Homo sapiens: one gene and its partner. The protein of the gene in region 1 binds, or shares a complex with, the protein of each later gene. Each region holds a gene or a part of one and is shown in the gene's direction. Other genes may lie near its edges. The genes, in order: RGS2 and GNAI3.

Region 1 (6,942 bases):
TCACCATATAGCATGTAACTTCCTGATTTTTTCCTTTTTTTTTTTTAACTAACCCACCTATTTAACATTTCATAAGGTAAACGATAGGTTTACAGCTCTTAGAAATTTGGAAACTAAAATATCTTACTAACTGAAAAAAGCAAAGCACAGAATAATACATAGAATGATACTTTTGTGTTTTTAAAAGCAAGTATCTTGGTTCCTAAATTTCCTATTTTTATTTATTTATTTCTTTATTTTTAATTTATTTTTTTTTTTTAAGAGGCAGGGTCTCCCTCTGTCACCCAGGCTAGAGGGCCGTGGCACCATCATGGCTCACTGTAGCCTCAAAGTCCCTGGGCTCAAGCAATCCTCCCACTTCAACTGACTGAGTAGACGGGGCTACAGGTGCATGCCACCATGCGTAGGTAATTTTTTTTTAATATATTTTTGTACAGACGGGGTCTAGCTATGCTGCCAAAGCTGGTCTTGAACTCCTGGGCCCAAGCAAGCCTCCTTCCTTGGCCTTCCAAACTGCTGTGATTACAAGCGTGAGCCACAGCATCCAATGGCTTTCACATTTCTAAAGCTTAAGTAGGTGAGTTATTTTATATAAATATTTTTAGTTAATAGGAATAGGAATTAATAACTTTTATTAATAATGGTTAGCATAGAGTGGGAGCAGAAGGGAGAAGTATGACAGGGGAAATTTTTACTCTTCATAATTTAAGACACGCAAGATATATAATACAAGAATCTCAGATACATTATGCAAGAAACTTGTATTTTTTCTTTGCCTTCTTCTATAAACTTTTAAAAAAATATAGAAAGTTCATAAATTATCTGGAAAACCTCCACCACTAATCTGTTCAATCAATCTCTCCAGTAGAGGGCATGGTAGGTTCAACACAGAAAATGTATGGTTAGGTTATCAGCCACTCTCAAACTGAGGTTTTGTTGTGCAACTTTTACAACCCACTGCATTGTTTCTTCCTCTACCACAGGATGGAAAATATGTGTCATCTTTATGTGGAGCAATTCTGTTTACCTAAAAGCCAGTTGCAACAACAAAAAGGGAAGTCATCAAAGATTCCAGCTTTTGTTTTACCTATATATACGTAAATATATGTAATGCATATGTAAATATACATGTAATACATATTACATATATGCGTGAAATATATGATGTATATATTCATGTCACATATATTACATGTATATGTAAATATACATATATTGGCCTGTCTTTTAAAAGACATTAACATGGCAAGTTTTTGAGGAAAAGGTTTCTATAGCAGGTACTGCCTTAACTCTTAAAATTACATATAGATACAAAAATTACAAGTTGATTTATATCCAGATTTATTAACCAACCACATAATTTTCAGAGAAAAATTAATTTTCTGCCACCTAACATCAGTCACTGATCTGGAAGGGTTTATGAAAAAAGCAAAGAATTATATTAAACACAAAAACATCAAGAATAATCTATATTTAAACCAGTTGCTTATGCAGGTACATGTATATTCACTTTCATTAATATATTGAGATGATTAAACTTCCTTGGCTTGGAGATATCTGAAAAGTGTAATTAATTATTATTATTATTTTAAGAGACAGGGTCTCACTCTATCACTCAGGTTGGAGTGCAATGGCACAATCATAGCTCACTGTAACTTGAATGCTTGAACCTCGAACTTCTGAGCTCAAGCCTTCCACCTGCCTCAGCCTCCCAAAGTGCTGGGATTTCCAGCATGAACCACAATACCCAGCCTGAAAAGTTTAAATGTTAATCAGTTTCCTTATTTTTCCTACGTATTATCCAGTGAGCATTTATTAAATATCTATAATGAGCTTAATCTTCTACAAATTTGTGTATCTTGTGTATTTGTGTACCTACAAATTGAAACATCTTGATATTTAATAGTACCTACATATTTATAACCTAATTACGTCTGAGTTAATCCTCGTACGATTTTTTCCATCTTGAACAGCTATGATTTGAACATTTCCTTTTGCCACACATATGCAAATCAGTAATAAACTTCCGTACAGTACTTTAGAGCTTAGAAAAGACCTTTCATGTAAGAGTCACATAATATCCTATGAGGCTGGCAAGAAAATACATGTTACTCTTATTACAGATGAGAAACTGGGACTCAAAGAGGTGTGAAGCTAGTGTCCCAACAGTTACTTAGCATTTACTGGATAAGCCCAGGCTCTAACTGGGTCTCCTGACAGAAGTCCAGCTCTCTCTCTCTGCTGCCTCTTTGTCAGAACTCCTGGCCTGCCAGCGAATTTAACTGTCTATGAGTAAATTCTAACATCTAAGGTTCTAAGTATAAAATATATTGAGGTTTACAGTGGTGAGAAAAAGCAAGTGTCTGCGTATTACAGACAGCTGATAAATACGTATTGAGTCATCAGAAAGTGAAAATAGATGTAGGACTATTATGCAAAGCATAGGAGAGGAAGAGCATATGCTTAAGAAAAAATGGCATTCCTAGAGTTAACAAGCATGTTTCAAAGTATCTATTACTGAAATCTACACGATTTTCCTTTCCACAATAAAGTCCACAACTGTTGTCTTAAATAATAACTGCAGGTTTTGCCCTCCAAGTCAAACTTGGAGCTCCAACTACTGGCAGCTCACCGTAAGAATATATTAATTATTTCCAATTTCCTTTTAAGAAGTCGAATACAAAGTAGAGAGAATATCTGCAGCTTGGTTGCAAAGCCGCTTAAACATTTCACTGGCTAGTTCTGGTAATATTATCCGAAATCAACTCATTTTGTGGTTGAGGTAATCTATTTGTCTTTACCAATCAAGTCGTTTTAAAACCTTCAGGAGTAGAGATGATACTTGAAGAATTAACAAATAAAACTTAATCAAGGAAACTGTTAACTCATTCTCCCCCCTACTTTTTGCCAGTTATTAAATGTTCTGGTAAATCCTAACTCAACAAGAATGACTCATGAGGAAATCCTGACTCCTTGAACTCACTGATTCTGGTGCATTACAGCTATGAAATCTCTATGTCTGCAGCTTTCTCTCCCACCATAAGGAAATCTGTGATTTCTATTTTGGCAGGAGATGTGACCAAGGACTCCTGAGGAATGACCCTATAGACAGACCCAGCCACGTGCCTAGTAGTGATCAAAAATGCAAACCCAATTAAAGCACTGTCTTCTGATAAAGTCACTTTCTCTTGTTCAATCCCTAATGTTCATTCTCAAAGTGTTCCAAGACGCCCCAGCAAGCTGCAGAGCAGATCCCACCCTGCCCCTGGGCAATCAACGTTTCAGGTTACTCCTTCCTTAAGTTAAGTGGCAGAGAGAAACGGGCGAGGGTCTCCCCATTGCCTCAGTTCACAGACCAGGGGGTGTCGAATGAGTCCTACAGCAGGACAGCAAACAAGAAATGAGGCGCGGGGTCAGGGAACGCGCTCAAAAAAGGAAGAAAAATCCCACTCTTCATTCGAAATCAGGCCACTGCACTCCGGCCTCGTGGCGGGCGACCTCCTCCTGCCAGGGAATCGCCGCTCTGGCCTCGGGCTGGGGAGCCCGTCAGGGTGGGTGAGGGAGCGCCGGCGCCCCCGCCGGGCCGCCGCCAACTTCGGCTCCCTCCCTCCGTCGCAAAGCCCTCGAGCCCGCCCGGCCGCCACGCTTCAGCAAAAGGTCGTGCGCAGCGGCCCACACTGAAGACTCTCCATCTGCTCCCACACCTGCCCCAGCTGGCCGCTGCTATGTGGCCCGAGTGCGCAAGAAGCCGGGGCCGCAGACGTCAGCAGCGCCCCGGCTTCGAGACCCTTCGGCAGCAGCCGTGACTGCCGCCGGCGGGCGCTGACCCATCCCCGTGCCAGTCTGCAGCCGACCAATCCGCGTCCTCTTGAGGCGGGGCCGGAGCCGCGAGGCCCCGCCCCCAAGCCGAGGCCTCATAAATGCTGCGACGCACGCCCAGCCGCAAACAGCCGGGGCTCCAGCGGGAGAACGATAATGCAAAGTGCTATGTTCTTGGCTGTTCAACACGACTGCAGACCCATGGACAAGAGCGCAGGCAGTGGCCACAAGAGCGAGGAGAAGCGAGAAAAGATGAAACGGACCCTGTGAGTATGGCTTTCTTCCCTCTCCCGCCACCCCCTGCCCCACACTGCAAGCTGCAAACGCGGTACTTTCGGGCTCGCCTTTGACGTTAGGAAACTAGCCTGAGCCTATGCAGGGAAAAAAAATCGAAAAGGTCAATTTGTTAAGTAAGGTTAAATCTGGGTGATGCTCGGGTACAGTTTAAGAACCGAGGGAGACAGTTGATATGAGGGCGGTGGTTGATGCGCTAAGAAATTGCGGGTTGGCTTTTTGTCCTCCTGCATTCAAAATGACATCAGAATCCTGCGGCTGAAGCGCGTCCCCAGCATTCATACGTTGCATGATGAGTTCTCATCAGCTTACACAGCTACTGGAAGGTGATGCTCTTGCTGGTTCTGAATATACTCGTTTAAAATCCATTTTTGTTTTTTAATTATAGAGCAGATCTCACCCAGTCCGAATGTGGAACAAATAATTGTTATGCAGCGTCTGCTTAAAAGAAGTGTCGTAGGTGGGGAAGGAAGAGCGCAGGGGAATCAGTCACCCACCTCTTTGTACAGTCTCTGGCGTGGTCCAGAACCTCCTGCTCTAAAGAGAGAAGCGTGGGCCGGCTCCAGACAGTTCCATGTCTGTCCTTTTCATTAAAGTGCAAAACGTCTCGGAATTGTAATTAACCTTGCAAACAAACTGATGCCCTTTGTGAGCCAGAAATAGTGTCTGCCTTTTGAACTAAATTCATTAACAATTCTTTAAAATACCCTAGTGATTATAGGTAGCCCTGCCCTTAGTTGTAAAACTAGTAGATACGGTCAGATTAATGGACGAAACTGCTCAGTACATGAGGTTTAAATGTTAGGTGGATAAGACTTATTTGAAGAGTTCTTGCTTTGCCTTATGCGGTTTGTCTCTAGTTACTGGGTGACTTTATTTGGTAAAAATGCGTTCAGCTGCAGTAGCATATTCAAGTGTTGCTAGTTAGTAATTATCTTTTTAATTTTTTGTTTTAGTTTAAAAGATTGGAAGACCCGTTTGAGCTACTTCTTACAAAATTCCTCTACTCCTGGGAAGCCCAAAACCGGCAAAAAAAGCAAACAGCAAGCTTTCATCAAGTAAGTTGAGAATCCTGTGCTTGCAAATATCAATAGTTAGCTGCTGAACTGAAAAGGGGAACTCTGATGTGCGTAAGCTAACATACAGAACCTCTCTTGCAGGCCTTCTCCTGAGGAAGCACAGCTGTGGTCAGAAGCATTTGACGAGCTGCTAGCCAGCAAATGTAAGTTAACTCTTGAGCTTGAGCCATTGCTAACATCGCAAAAGCCTGGAAAGGCTGCGTCCACCTAACAAAAGAGCAGCTTGCCTGAGGGGGATTAGACTGCAGTCACTATAGGATAAAGCCTGTTTTTCTTTCCTTTATTTCCCAGGGTTTAACAAATAAATGCATATATTCTCTCCAGGTGGGGAAGAAAATCAGCCTAAACAAATTAAAGTGGCAGTTGCTTATAGTTAAGGTTGAGTCAGTTTTTCCATTGCATACAATGTTTTCAAGAGGCTTAGTTCCCAGAGAATTTATGGCTCCCCTATAAATATTTACTTTGCATTGACAGCAAAGTACTTATATTTTTGCAGCAGAGTGCCAACATAAGCCTTTTGCCTACTGGTATCTTAGTCTTTAAAAAGCTAAATTTTGAGAATTACAGGTTTGAGCGAAATCTAGAAAATTCATTTAGAAATAATTAAAATGTGAGGGATAGGAGAAACATAAGGAATCATTTGGTCTCTCAGTTCTTCACATTCTGCATGCTCTCTTTTCTCCCCCCTTCAGATGGTCTTGCTGCATTCAGGGCTTTTTTAAAGTCGGAATTCTGTGAAGAAAATATTGAATTCTGGCTGGCCTGTGAAGACTTCAAAAAAACCAAATCACCCCAAAAGCTGTCCTCAAAAGCAAGGAAAATATATACTGACTTCATAGAAAAGGAAGCTCCAAAAGAGGTAAGGAAACAAGTTCCTAATTTCAGCACAATCTGGACATCTTTAGCACAAAAGTGAAACAAAGTAATCAAGGACAAAGCGGGCTAGGAGGGGTAAAAAGTCCCTCCACGTTGTAGCTTTCAGTTATGTTAAAGTTCTCCTGTGACTTAGCTAGTAAAGCTAATCACACATAATTTTTATTTTTTGTTTTCAAATACTAAATTTTAATCTTTAACTCTGAATACCAAATAAACAACTTTTTTGTTTTATTTCAGATAAACATAGATTTTCAAACCAAAACTCTGATTGCCCAGAATATACAAGAAGCTACAAGTGGCTGCTTTACAACTGCCCAGAAAAGGGTATACAGCTTGATGGAGAACAACTCTTATCCTCGTTTCTTGGAGTCAGAATTCTACCAGGACTTGTGTAAAAAGCCACAAATCACCACAGAGCCTCATGCTACATGAAATGTAAAAGGGAGCCCAGAAATGGAGGACATTTCATTCTTTTTCCTGAGGGGAAGGACTGTGACCTGCCATAAAGACTGACCTTGAATTCAGCCTGGGTGTTCAGGAAACATCACTCAGAACTATTGATTCAAAGTTGGGTAGTGAATCAGGAAGCCAGTAACTGACTAGGAGAAGCTGGTATCAGAACAGCTTCCCTCACTGTGTACAGAACGCAAGAAGGGAATAGGTGGTCTGAACGTGGTGTCTCACTCTGAAAAGCAGGAATGTAAGATGATGAAAGAGACAATGTAATACTGTTGGTCCAAAAGCATTTAAAATCAATAGATCTGGGATTATGTGGCCTTAGGTAGCTGGTTGTACATCTTTCCCTAAATCGATCCATGTTACCACATAGTAGTTTTAGTTTAGGATTCAGTAACAGTGAAGTGTTTACTATGTG
Region 2 (12,966 bases), about 83 Mb from region 1:
GCTTCAAGCACCTACAAAGCTGTTTTCCTTCAGTTCTTTAAATATTTTAATTAATATTCTTTTCCTTTCCTTTTTTTTTTTTGAGACAGTGTCTTGCTCTGTCTCCCAGACAGAAATGCAGTGGCATGATCTCGGCTCACTGCAACCTCCACCTCCCAGATTCAAGTGCTTCTTGTGCCTCAGCTCTACTACAGGTGCCCACCACCAGGCCTAGCTAATGATTTTTTGATTTTTAGTAGAGATGTGGTTTCACTAAGTTAGCCAGGCTGGTGTTGAACTCCTGACCTCAAGCGATCCACCTGCTGCGGCCCCCAAAGTGCAGGGATTACAGATGTGAGCCACCGCACCCAGCTCCTTTTTTCTTAAGCTCCGTTTTGTTACCTGGTCTTCTTTATATCTTTGTTATTGATATTTTTGTTATGCTTCACGTTACTGAAAATAGCCTGTAGTTTATTGGAATAATGAATTGTCTTTGTTGCGTTTCCCTGGCTTTATAGCCAGTTTCTAAGGCTACTCTAAAGGTTCTATAAGTAGACAAGATGGTGTAAAAAGCAGGTGATTTAAGGGTATTAATTACAAATATTGTTGAGACAGGCTTTGCTTTTGGTTCCTGTCACCTTTCTTTTTGTAAAAAATAATAGCTTCATTGAGATATAATTGGGAAACCCTAAAATTCACTCTTTTAAAGTGTATTGCTTTTCCTTATTTAAATTATTACCTTAAGGCTTTGAAGCTAAACCTCTTTAAAACTGTGGAATGATTTTGAAAAGAACAATTTACCTTGTTGAATTCCTTTTTTTTTTGTTTTAATACAAACAATCCCATAGCGTTTATTGCCATCTTTTAGTAACATAAGGGTAATCAAAACACTATGAATGAATGTTCATATTGGAAAAAGGACATCTAAAAGCAAACTGTATCCTTCTCAACAATTTCTCACTTCATTGATCCTTTCTAGTTGGAGACACTTTGTAGCAGAGTAATATTATCTCCTTTTAGCATGATCCGACCCAGTTGTTTTAAAAAATATGGAACGCTTCACGAATTTGCGTGTCATCCTTGCGCGGGGACTGTGCTAATCTTCTCTGTATTGTTCCAATTTTAGTACATGTGCTACCAAAGCAAGCACTACCCTGTTGAATTTTTATTCCAAGATCACTCCAAGGAACACAGCCTCTCTCAGACCTTTTAAGCAGTTGTGTTCCCTAGAAATGCACCTTCCTACTTTCCTAGTTTCCTTTTATACTTTCTAGATTTTTTTAGCTGAAAAGTCTAAATGAAAAGGTAAAGAGAAATTTAACGTTATGTTTTCCTCAATCTTTGTGTTTGATGATTTTATTTTGTTACCATGAGAGTCCACTCTCACGAAGAACCTAATTATAGAAACACCTAATGATTATAGAAATAGAGAATTCTACTCATATTTAATTGGGTTATGTTCCCTCTCCATAAGTAAATGGTAATGGTCTGACTTAGTTGAGTTCAGGCAGCTGTTACAATTTGAACTGAGAGTACTGGGTGTCCGTTTTAGGTTCCAATACATATGAAGAGGCAGCTGCCTATATTCAATGCCAGTTTGAAGATCTGAACAGAAGAAAAGATACCAAGGAGATCTATACTCACTTCACCTGTGCCACAGACACGAAGAATGTGCAGTTTGTTTTTGATGCTGTTACAGATGTCATCATTAAAAACAACTTAAAGGAATGTGGACTTTATTGAGAAGCATGGATGTTAGTGAAAGGTAAAGTTTCATACAAGGTAGTTATAGTGCTACAGTGATGTCTCTTGGTTTTTAAACTTTTTCTAATTAAGAATATTCTTCTCTTCTAGTTACTACAGTGTGGAGTGTTGAGACCAGACACCTTTTGCTGTCTCATGGGGCAGCTACAAGCATGAACGGGACCAGGGAATGGCAGCAGCATGCAGAATCTTAGCACTCTTTAGCACAATATTTTGTATTAGGGAACTTTTAATTGACATGAGATGCTAAAGTCAGACATTGGAATTGGAAGAACTATAAAGTGTGATTCGATCGTCAAGACATCACTTGGATTTCTTAATCTTAAATGCTTATGGAAGATGTGAAGTTGAGGTGCTGCATTCTAGAACTTCAATATGTAGCTTACTCTTTTTTTCCCCCCTTCTTAAACCACCAGTGGTTCATTTTTAAGGTTTTTTCATCAAGAGAAGAATAACTTTACTAAATTTTATTTCTTTATTTGCAAAAGAATCTTTATTAAAACAAACAATCTTAACTATGCACATGATGTGACCAGATCATCTTGAAAATATTCCTCTTTAGTAGGAACTCTTTGTTTTTAACTCTTGGTATGGTCAGAATATAATACTTCCATAATTACTTATAATTCTTTCCGGTTACTGGGGCTATAAATACAACTTTTTAAATGAAATTTATGTTATTATCCTGCTCAAAGTACCATTATGGTTTCCATATGGTAATTACATTGGAAAGTTCTGCAATAAGATTCTAGTTCTCTCTTTTCTTTAAGCTTATGGTTGAAGGTTAACCTTGTTTGTGCAGATTACCAAATTACTGCTGATGTAGTATGATAAAGTCAGCTTCTTGGATACAGACACACCCAGGGCAGCTGCCAATCAGAAATGCAAATTGCTAAATTCCAAACAGAACCAGTGACTTTGCTGCTACATATTTACTAAATTGACCACTTTGATTCTTGCTTGTTTGTCTCAGTTATAGGGAGTTTTGTACATGGTGCCTCTTGTTTTCCATCTTCATGGCCTTTTCTGTTGAGAAACATCTAAAGTGTATTAACAGTGCATGCTTTTACTTTGTAAATGTGGTGCCAAATCCCTGTTTGCCATCGTTTTTACTGTACCGATGTTAACTGTAGTAATCCTTAGCCAGTATGTTCTTTTGCTGAAACTGTTGCATTTTGGGACTTTTTTCCACTTTGTCATGTGTACATTTTTAATCTGTTATAGTTGGCGGCAGTATTAAAATGGTGAGTAAAGAGCCCAGGTTTGCTCCTGTTTGTAACTAGTCTTTTCTGGAAATACTGTCTTCTGTTTCCTTTTGCCTTTGCAGAATGTGCTTTAGCCTTTGTCTGAGAATGGGTTTAGGTAGAAGGGTTTCCTGAAAGTCTAGTCTTTTGGTGTAATAGTATTGTTGAACCTTAGGTTTTATGTTATATCTGCATATGAGTGATATGTGATCATGATTCATTTTGCAGATTTACATTTTGCTTGTGTGGAAAGTTACGTTCACTTCAACCTACAGACCCTTTTGTATAATGTACAGCAAATGTCATTAAATATTGAATGCTCTATTGGGGGAAGACAAATGAAGAGAATGCATTTTGAGCATTTCAAATCAGTAGTTTGGGCAGTGCCTTTTGGGGTCCAATCTTTTTGGATTGGATTCTATTTCATCTTTTGATGTGACTTTTCACTAGTTTACAAAAAAAAGGTTGGTGGTCAACAAAAAAAGCAAGTCATAGCAGTTCAGTGCCTTTGTTGGTAGTTTTTAACTTTTTTTGTGATTCTTTTTGGAAAATCATAGCTTACAGATGGTATAACTGTATTATATAATGGAATTTTCTTTAGGTGTGGGAAAACTTGATCTGAAAGAAAATTATCAGCTTCAATTGGCGATTGATTCAGTGCCCACAATGTAAACAGGGTTGGTAGTTGTTACTCATTTTGAATATACCTTTTCCTTATTGTATTCTGTAATATAGGATCCTGGAAATGAGACCTGGTGGAATATTATTTTCAACTGTAGTCTTTCTATACTGTGGACTAATGAAATGGTGTTGTTGATAATCTAAAATAACCAATAATCCAAAAAAGTTCATTTTACTTTGAATTTGTATTTTCATTTGAATATCTATCTGATATGTTAAATTTTTAGCCCTTCTGTTAAAGAAAAATAGCAGGTCCCCATTTTTCTGCCTCTGTACCATTTACATTTGCTCTCTGTTTGTTAACATGAAGATCACTCTTATTTCACCATCCCAAATAACTTATCTAAATGCACATTCCTTGAGGACACAGGGAGACAATTTAAGTCAGTAGTTTTTAATATGACTTAAGTAAAAATCACTTGGACCCATCTAAGGGATTGACTTTTGGCTGGTGGGCTGGCAATCGATTTTTTTTTTTTTTTTTTTTTTTTGAGACGGAGTCTCGCTCTGTCGCCCAGGCTGGAGTGCAGTGGCGCGATCTCGGCTTATTGCAAGCTCTGCCTCCCGGGTTCATGCTATTCTCCTGCTGGGACTACCAGGTTCCTGCCACCACGCCCAGCTAATTTTTTTGTATGTCTTAGTAGAGACGGGGTTTAACCGTGTTAGCCAGGATGGTCTTGATCCCCTGACCTCGTGATCTGCCTGCCTCAGCCTCCCAAAGTGCTGGGATTACAGGCGTGAGCCACCGCACCTGGCTGGCAATTTATAATTTTTAAAAGGTGATTCTGATTACCAGCCAGGCTTGCAAATCACTGGTTTGTATTGAAATAAAAGATATTTTCTTGTAGCAGGGCTAAAATGTGGGATGAAACATTAAATCTACTAGCCTGAAAAAAAACTTTGGCATTTGTAATCAAAGAAGCTGAAAGTTGCCTTGTGTGTTTCCTCTGAAGAATGCTGGAGATTTGTGATGGATAATGTTTCAGAATTCAGGTGCCTATGCTTTGGACCATCAAAGAAGCCATTAGTCTCTGTGTAAAGAAGAAGTATTCTTAATGGACAGTCCCCCCTAACCTTATAAATTCAGCTTTGCAACAGATTTCACCTCCTAGCATGAAAATTCCAAAAACTTTAACAATTACTCATAAGTGGATCTTGAGATGACATTTTCATCTTGGACAGTTTGAATTCTAAATCTCTAGTTCACAGTGAATCGTTTTTTAAATTTTTACTGATGGATCGTTATTTTTCACAAGGTACTACATTCTTACAATGTAAGACTAGATGGACCAAAATTTTAAAAAAAACTTCTTGCCTTGTTTTTTTAATTTTCATATATATTCTATTTGTTGTATATACACATTAGACTATTTTAAAATAACAGCTGGTTTTTGTAATTCATTCATTCACCCTATATTCTTATATTCTGCTCATTATTCTCTCATTTATAGCTGTGACATTCTTTGGACATTACTTGCCTGGCCTGATTAGTTACTTAATATAATTTATTCATTTGCTTAGCATGTGTGACATAGTTCTGGAATTTCCTGTTGCAGAACTCCTTGCTGTATTGCAGTCATATATAAGGTAAAGTCAGTCTCTTGTTCCTATTAAAAAGCTACCATTGATTATTTTCCCTTTTTACATGTTCAAAAAAAAAAAAATAAGCAACCCTCTACTCATTTGTATAAACCTAAAACGTCACTGTTTTCCTTGAGCGTTAGTACTTGTGGGTTCTTTCCTTTTCATGTGTAATACTGATTTTAAGAGCAATGATCTTAGTTTGCCAGTGCCAGGTAATTATTGTGTTCTACTTTAGGCTTCGTAGTGCAAATCAGGGATCTGACCTGGATCAGCCTCAGCTCTTTACATAGCTTTATGATCATCATATTTTGTTGTATTGCTCCCAACAAGCACAAGAGAAAAAGGCAGGCTTCCTAGAGACCTCAAGTTGAAAGTTGATTTTGCTGACAACTATCAGGGAGTAAAAGAAAGCCTTTTTCAGGCACTGGAGAACTAACTTTAATGATGATCAAGGTCTTTATGCCTTTATCTTTTAGTTTTTAAGATCATTTCTCTCCCTCCTTTCCCCCCAGTTTTCTCAACATTTATGAGTTAGTTCTGCTGAGAACAACATACTTCAGAACATGTCAGGATAGGGCAGTTTTTTCTTGTTTTTCTTTTTTCTTTTTTTGAGACAGTCTTGCTCTGTTGCCCAGGCTGGAGTACAGTGGCACGATCTCTGCTCACTGCAACCTTTGCCTCTTAGGTTCAAGCGATTCTTGTGCCTCAGCCTCCCAAGTAGCTGTGATTACAGGCATGTGCCACCACATCTGGCTAACTTTTGTATTTCTAGTAGAGACAGGGTTTCACCATGTTAGCCAGGCTGGTCTCAAACTCCTGACCTCAAGTGATTTGCCTGCCTTGGCCTCCCAAAGTGCTGAGATTACAGATGTGAACCACTCCACCCACTCAGGGCAGTTTTTTTTCTGATACCATATCAGGCCTAGGCCTGGGCTGACTCAAATCTTCTCAGGAATAAGAGGTAAGAAGGAATGTTAAACAGCAGTAGTTACCTGGGGTACATGGTTAATTTGATTTAGCAGATTCTTTGGCTAAACCCTAGTAAATTAAAATGTCTGAGCCAGGTCATGGGAATATACATGTTTTTAATACATTCCTTAGGTGATTTTGATGTAGCCAATCTGGGCCAACATTTGGGGACAACTGAGTAGGACCTAATACAGGTTGAATAGCCCTTATCCAAATCTCTTGGGACCAGAAGTGTTTGAGAGTTCAGATTTTTGTGAGGTTTTGAAATATTTGCATTATATACTTATTGGTTCGGGATTCCAAATCCAAAAATCTGAAATCCAAAATGCCCCAGTGTGTGCTTCCTTTGAGTGTTATGTTGTTACCCAAAAAGCTTTTGATTTTGGAGCATTTTAGATTTTGGATTTTCAGATTTGAAATGCTCAATCTATATTAAAGATCAACACAGGCTGAGCACAGTGGCTCATGTCTGTAATCCCAGCACTTTGGGAGGCCGAGGTAAGCAGATCACTTGAGGTCAGGAGTTTGAGACCAGCTTGGCCAACATGGTGAAACCCCGTCTTTACTAAAAATACAAAAATTAGCCAGGCATGGTGGTGGATGCCTGTAATCCTAGCTACTCGGGAGGCTGAGGCAGGAGAATCGCTTGAACCTGGGAGGCAGAGGTTGCAGTGAGCCGAGATCGCACCACTGAATTCCAGCCTGGGCGACAGAGTGAGTCTGTTTTTTTTTTGTTTTTTTTTAAAGTCAACACAAATATTGAAAATAAGCAACTTCAGTGCACAAATAAGCTCAAAATCACTAGTGAGTGATCTATTTTTTGCCAATAAGAAGTACCATTTGTACATGACTTAAAGTGCCTTCCACCAAGAAAATTATTGAAAACTGTTGGGTCACATAACATTCCTACACTTTGGATACAGAGTATTTAGTTTTATACAAAATTAAGACAACAAGAAACCTAGGATGTCCAAACATTCATTTCATTTATTTTACTGCATTTATTTATGCAGTGAAAATTGAAAGATACACCAAATTAAAGATAAAACCCTGTGACAGATAACAGTATATGTAATAACATGAATATTTATTTACACTTGGTAGAGAAAGCAAAGCTAGCTAGCTCTAAACTAGAATGAAAGTCGTTTTGAAATGGGTACGGGGGTATATAAGGGGAATGATTGAGTCACATGTAAAAGCCTTTGTATGCCCAGTGCTAGTGTTTTCCTGAAATCTAGTGAGAATCACAAGGTACCAGAAATAATCAAATAATAAATATTAATACACTGCTGGGATAGAAGTATCTCAGTGTACCAGCATTCACTAAGCTATAAAATCTGTGACAGCAGGAATATTAAATTATGAACAACCTGGTTTATCTGTCTCCTCTTATCTTTTACCTCTCCCTACGCCCAAAATTCTCCTTAGGTTATCCAGACATTTTTACTAAGATGCTTATTTATATGTAAGAGAGATTTCCAGTAGATACAACAAAACACAAGAAATCACCTGTTCTGTTTATTCTTGCTCATGTAGGATAAAGGTCCTGAGACCTCTCAGAATCTTACGAGGTTGGAGAGTTGTTTGGAATGCTGGGTTCTGGTCTTGTCTCTGCTTCCAACCAGCTATGGAATCTTGTGTATTCTTTCAGTCTTAAATCACTCATCTGTTATCTAAAGATGGACTAAATTATTCCTTCCTGCTGTGATATTCTGTGGTTCTCATCAGATAGAAATAACATATTTGAAAATGCTTTGTAAATGTTATGATACTCAGGATTATACTGCACAGAAAAAAAAAAATCCTAAGGCAGCACCAACAAAGGTATTCAACGTAGTGGGTGGTCTTTTACAGCATTACTTTGCCCATATTCATTTTGAAGACCTGAAATGAAGTTGAACTATAAATTGCTCTAAAATTCGTGAAGCAGGGTGAAAAGGTCTTTGCTTTGTTTTACATTTAAATCCAGCTGTCTATTTTCTGCTTATACTAGTGCTTTTTCATGGCAAAAAGACAGAAAAGTTCCCTTCTGCAGTCTCCAGTGTCTTCTGACCTCACAGAAATGTTTTCATGCTTTTACCTAGCAGGACCACCAGAGGCTCTGTCACACTTGCAGTCCCTGGCCCAACACCGAAATCCTTCTGGAATCTGTGCTCTGGGGGCTGTGCCGGGTAGAGAGGGCAGTGGGAGGTAAGAGCTCTTCACCCTTCACCACCTTCTCCACCCAGCATGGCCGGCACACTTTGGTCTACGGCACATCTCCAAGTATAGAGTGGGTTTTGAATGCTGTTATGTCTCACCGTGGGGATGGGAAGGAATACTCTGTTTTGGACTATTTGGAGGTACATGTGAGTGGATTTTATTACCAGAGTAGGAACTGTTTCAAGTTAATGTGTCTTTTATGTTGCTTTTAAGACAACTTTTGTGCCGCTTTTATCCATTCTTCCTTTTATCCACAGAAATACAAATTTCTAATTATAGTATATTTTTTCTATTTTTAAAATTGTGATAAAGCATATATAACAAAATTTGCCATCTTAAGTGTACAGTTCAGTGGCATTAAGTACATTCACACTGTTGCACAGCCATCACCACCATCCATTTCCAGAACTTGTTTTCATCTTCCTGAACTGAAACTCTGTACCTGTTAAACAGTAACTCCCCATGCCCCACCTTCTTTCAGCCCCTGGTAACCAGCATTTTCCTTTGTCTCTATGAATTTGACTATTTTAGATACCTCATATAAGTGGAATCATAGTATTTGTCCTTTTGTGTCAATCATATTGTATTTTTGTCTAAAAAAGGAAAACTATCAGATTTATGTGAAATGTAACGTAATTTACATTTGATTTACTGTTAGTAATGTCTCTTTAATCATGCTATGCTAGGGAAGTACATTATGGTCTCTCCCTCTAAGAATATGAAGAGGAAATTTTACCTTCAACAAACAAGCAAACTTAGTTATATTTTTGTGATTTTATGCTGTTTTCATATTCTATTTTGAGATCTATTTGTCTTAGCTTGGAGGTGGTTTTGTTAAATGTCCACGATTTAGAGACGGCATAATGAAAAAATGACCAAGAATTTGGTTGGGAATGGGAGGAGCTTAGAAGAACAAGAAATTGGCTTTGATTTTATAGTGTATGGTGCTCTGTTGGTAGCTGGACATCATCACAGGCTTTGGATTGAGAAGACCTGTTCTGGAGTTCTAGTTCTGCTACTGCCTAGCGTTGTGATCTTGATGAAGATACTCTTCCTTCCTGGGCTTCAGTTTTTGATCTATAAATTGCTAGTGATGGGGCTGGACTATTTTTAAGTTTGTTCTAACTTTAGCAGTCTTAAGAATTAAGGTTGCATGCCAGAAAATAGGGTTAAATATTTGTTTCTGATCTGGTTACAAAAAAAAAAAAAACTTGATGGCTTAAAGTAAATAAAAATTCAACAGTACGGTGTAAATTTAAAATGAGGCAAAAGAAAGATAATGACTTAATTTTTATTTTAATCTTTCTTATAGCTGTTTTATATAAGAACTTTTCATGAATACAATCAAAATGTCCATGAGATAAAAATAAGCTAATTGTGCAGGAAAAGTACAAATGCACTTTTTCTGCAGCTCTAACATGTAAGGTTTGGGAACAATCGTTGGGCCTGACAAACAGTTGAGCTAGGGTAAGGGTGAATGCCTTTTCTGGAAGCCTATCAAGAGCATCGAGGTGAAGTCCTCTTACCTTTAATCATGGGAGAGCCCATTCTGGACCAAGGGTTTGAGAAAATTATTCTGACTGTGTTCTAAGGTAATAGGTGAATGGGTGCTCAAGGGCCCCTGTTGCATTTCATGTAGACTTGCCAGAAGAGTTTTAGCTTGAAAACATCATAAGATGAATATAGGCAGATCCCAAACTCAGTAAAAAAACAGCTATAGAATGTTGCTCTATCCTCCAAGATGAACACTTTACATAATGTTTGTACAAGGTGGCTTGTGTGAGTTTGTTGATAAACCAGTTAAAAGTTGGGATATCCCCCAGCTATCCCAAAAGAAGAGGACTAAATACAACCATGTTTTAGTCTGCTAGAGACTTGTGTTCTGACCTAAGACCTGTCAGAAGACCTGTCCCACTGGCTCTGCTTCTGTACTAGTACTATAAGGCAGGTTCTGTGTGAACATTAATAACCAAGGATCCTGAGTTAGACTTATAGTTTGGTCAATAACCAATTTATACCTAGATTGAAAGACCAAGGAAAAGTTAATAAAATAATCAACAATCTGGTACTATTTGAGGGAAAGTAGGGCTATCCTATTTGGAGATGGAATAAATGGGATAAATTATGTTTGGGGCCTGAATAGACAAGATCATAGCTTGTATAGTAAGGGTTCTTAACCTGGGGCTTCAGAGCTCCAGCGAGTCTACAGAGAGACTATTTGATATGCTAGTTTTCTTTGTATTTCTCTGAATTTAATTTTACGTGTTTAAAAATATGATGATGAAAAGAGGCACATGGTTTCATCAGATTGCCGGAAGGATCCATGATACAAAACAGATTCAGAACTCCTGTATGTTGAGTTAAAGTGAACAGATTAGTAATGGTTGGAGCATGATATTCAGAGTAGTTCCTGAACAGCTCTTGAATATGAGAAGTCTTTCCCAGGTTTTTTGTTTTGTTTTGTTTTGTTTTGAGATGGAATCTCACTGTCGCCCAGGCTGGAAGTGCAGTGGCATGATCTTGGCTCACTGCAAACGCCTCCTGGGTTCAGGTGATTCTCCTGCCTCAGCCTCCTGAATAGCTGGGATTACAGGCAGGCACCACAACGCCTGGCTAATTTTTGTATTTTTAGTAGAGACGGGGTTTTGCCCTGTTAGCCAGGCTGGTCTCAAACCCCTGACCTCAGGTGATCCACCTGCCTTGGCCTCCCAAAGTGCTAGGATTACAGGTGTGAGCCACCGTGCCCAGCCAGGTTTGTTCTTTGGCTTGAGTTTTTTCATCAGCAGTAGCCAGAGTAGTTTCTCGGATAATTCTCCCAAGCTGCTTTCTTTTTAGGGAATCAGAAAGACTATTAAATGAGTTTAACTTTTATAGCTACAAATTTATTCTTAAGTGTATTTCAAGCTCATATGGCTCTCTAGTATTAATATTGCTAGTAGCAGCCTAAGTGTGAGTGGGTGTTTCTGGCAAGGAGCAATTTCCATTTTAATTGACATTTTCTTCTATGTACTAAATCTTGGATGCCAAGAGCTTTCCTCACTGGTAGTTGTAAATGCTAAATCTATATACTTAACTTCATCCCCTTCTGTCAAGATAAATGCAAACTTCATTTCCCCTCAAAGGAGTTCAAAGGAAAACTTCTTGGCGTGTTTGGGGAGATGTTTTCATCCACCATCACATGGACCCAACTGCAAAGATTTTCAGTGCCTAAAACAAGCTCACCTGTCTTGGTTCTTCTGAAACACGTAGCAGTTGAAAAGTTTAGAATTGTTCACTTGTTCCAAATTCTATGATAGAGAGGCGGCAGCAATACATTCATTAATACTCTAAATGAGAGTATTTGATGTCCTCTAAGTTTATTCAGGAAGTATCTTATGTAGCTAAGAAACATTTGTAGAGATAAAGGTCTGTTTGATAGCCTGGGGGCAGAGGGATAATGTTTGCTTAATAAAGATGATCGTTTTGGGATGTGCCTTAGAAACTAACAAACTCGCATCTCCTATCCAGTGATCCAGATCTCTGAGCTAAGGCACATAGAGGTCTGTTAGTAAAAAGGGAATGGCAGGTTTATTTAGGTTTGGTTAATACTAGTTTTTTACAGACTATAGGAAGCCTTGCTATTTTGCTTGGAATAGTTTGTTGCAATAGTTTATTCTAAAAACCAGGTGTTGAATTTAATATATGGCAGCTTTTATATTTTTATATAGGATTTATTTCTGTGACCCTAAGCACAAGCAGGCTTTTTTTTTTTTTTTTTTTTTTTTGAGACAGTTCTGTTGCCCAGGTTAGAGTGCAGTGGCGTGATCTTGGCTCACTACAACCTCTGCCTCCCGGGTTCAAGCAATTCTCTTGCCTCAGCCTCCCGAGCAGCTGGGATTACAGGCGCCTGCCACCATGCCCAGCTAATTTTTGTATTTTTGGTAGAGACAGGGTTTCACTGTGTTGGCCAGGCTGGTCTCAAATTCCTGATCTCGTGATCTGCCCACCTTGGCCTCCCAAAGTGCTGGGATTACAAGCGTGAGCCACTGTGCCTGGCCTGCACAAGCAGTTTTTATGTGCCTTCCCTTCAGTTATGTTCGTGCTCCTCAGAATAACCCTGTAAAGTAGGTAGGGAAGTCATCTTCATTTTATAGTTGAAAGACTCAAGACTCAGAAATAAAGTATTCACAGTTTTGTATTAAGTTGGAAAACCAGTACTGGAACCTGGGGGGTCTTCTAACTACTGGCCTGTGCTCTTTAAGCTGCAATAGCTATCCCACTTTGAAAAGAACGTATGAAATACAGTTGCAGTCATGTATACTCCATCTCCAAAGAATGGATTCATTCTTCATGTCATGGTATATTGACTATAATTTTCTGTTTTTAATTACCCAGATTCCAAGCCTGTTTATAGAACTTATACCTGAGGAATGGTGAGGATTAGAAGAGGCCGCAGTCCTTGAGGTTTTCTTTGATGATAATATCTGTAACTGCATCAAACACAAATTTGACATTCTGTGTATCTGTAGCACAGGTCATGTGACTGTAGATTTCTTTGACATCT

The links.
Region 2: the proteins of RGS2 (region 1) and GNAI3 are in contact, whole or in part, in a crystal structure (PDB 2V4Z), measured with the Homo sapiens proteins. Residues at the interface, in NP_002914.1 of Homo sapiens: Glu104 (codon at 5,920), Phe105 (codon at 5,923), Glu108 (codon at 5,932), Asn109 (codon at 5,935), Glu143 (codon at 6,037), Ala144 (codon at 6,040), Pro145 (codon at 6,043), Glu147 (codon at 6,049), Ile148 (codon at 6,306), Asn149 (codon at 6,309), Asp151 (codon at 6,315), Phe152 (codon at 6,318), Leu180 (codon at 6,402), Asn183 (codon at 6,411), Ser185 (codon at 6,417), Arg188 (codon at 6,426); in NP_006487.1 of Homo sapiens: Val179, Lys180, Thr181, Thr182, Gly183, Ile184, Val185, Gln204, Ser206, Glu207, Lys209, Lys210, His213, Ala235, Glu236, Asp237, Glu238.

What each region holds. Positions count from the first base shown.
Region 1 is NC_000001.11:192,805,097-192,812,038, forward strand, and holds the start of RGS2 (regulator of G-protein signaling 2), read left to right. Parts: upstream 1-3,942; 5' UTR 3,943-3,975; coding exon 3,976-4,085; intron 4,086-5,069; coding exon 5,070-5,171; intron 5,172-5,273; coding exon 5,274-5,335; intron 5,336-5,884; coding exon 5,885-6,051; intron 6,052-6,305; coding exon 6,306-6,500; 3' UTR 6,501-6,942. UniProt on the Homo sapiens protein: Regulates G protein-coupled receptor signaling cascades. Inhibits signal transduction by increasing the GTPase activity of G protein alpha subunits, thereby driving them into their inactive GDP-bound form.
Region 2 is NC_000001.11:109,590,512-109,603,477, forward strand, and holds the end of GNAI3 (guanine nucleotide-binding protein G(i) subunit alpha-3), read left to right. Parts: intron 1-1,531; coding exon 1,532-1,722; 3' UTR 1,723-1,744; intron 1,745-1,833; 3' UTR 1,834-9,684; downstream 9,685-12,966. Other genes in the region: GNAT2 (guanine nucleotide-binding protein G(t) subunit alpha-2), read right to left, coding at 12,843-12,966. UniProt on the Homo sapiens protein: Heterotrimeric guanine nucleotide-binding proteins (G proteins) function as transducers downstream of G protein-coupled receptors (GPCRs) in numerous signaling cascades.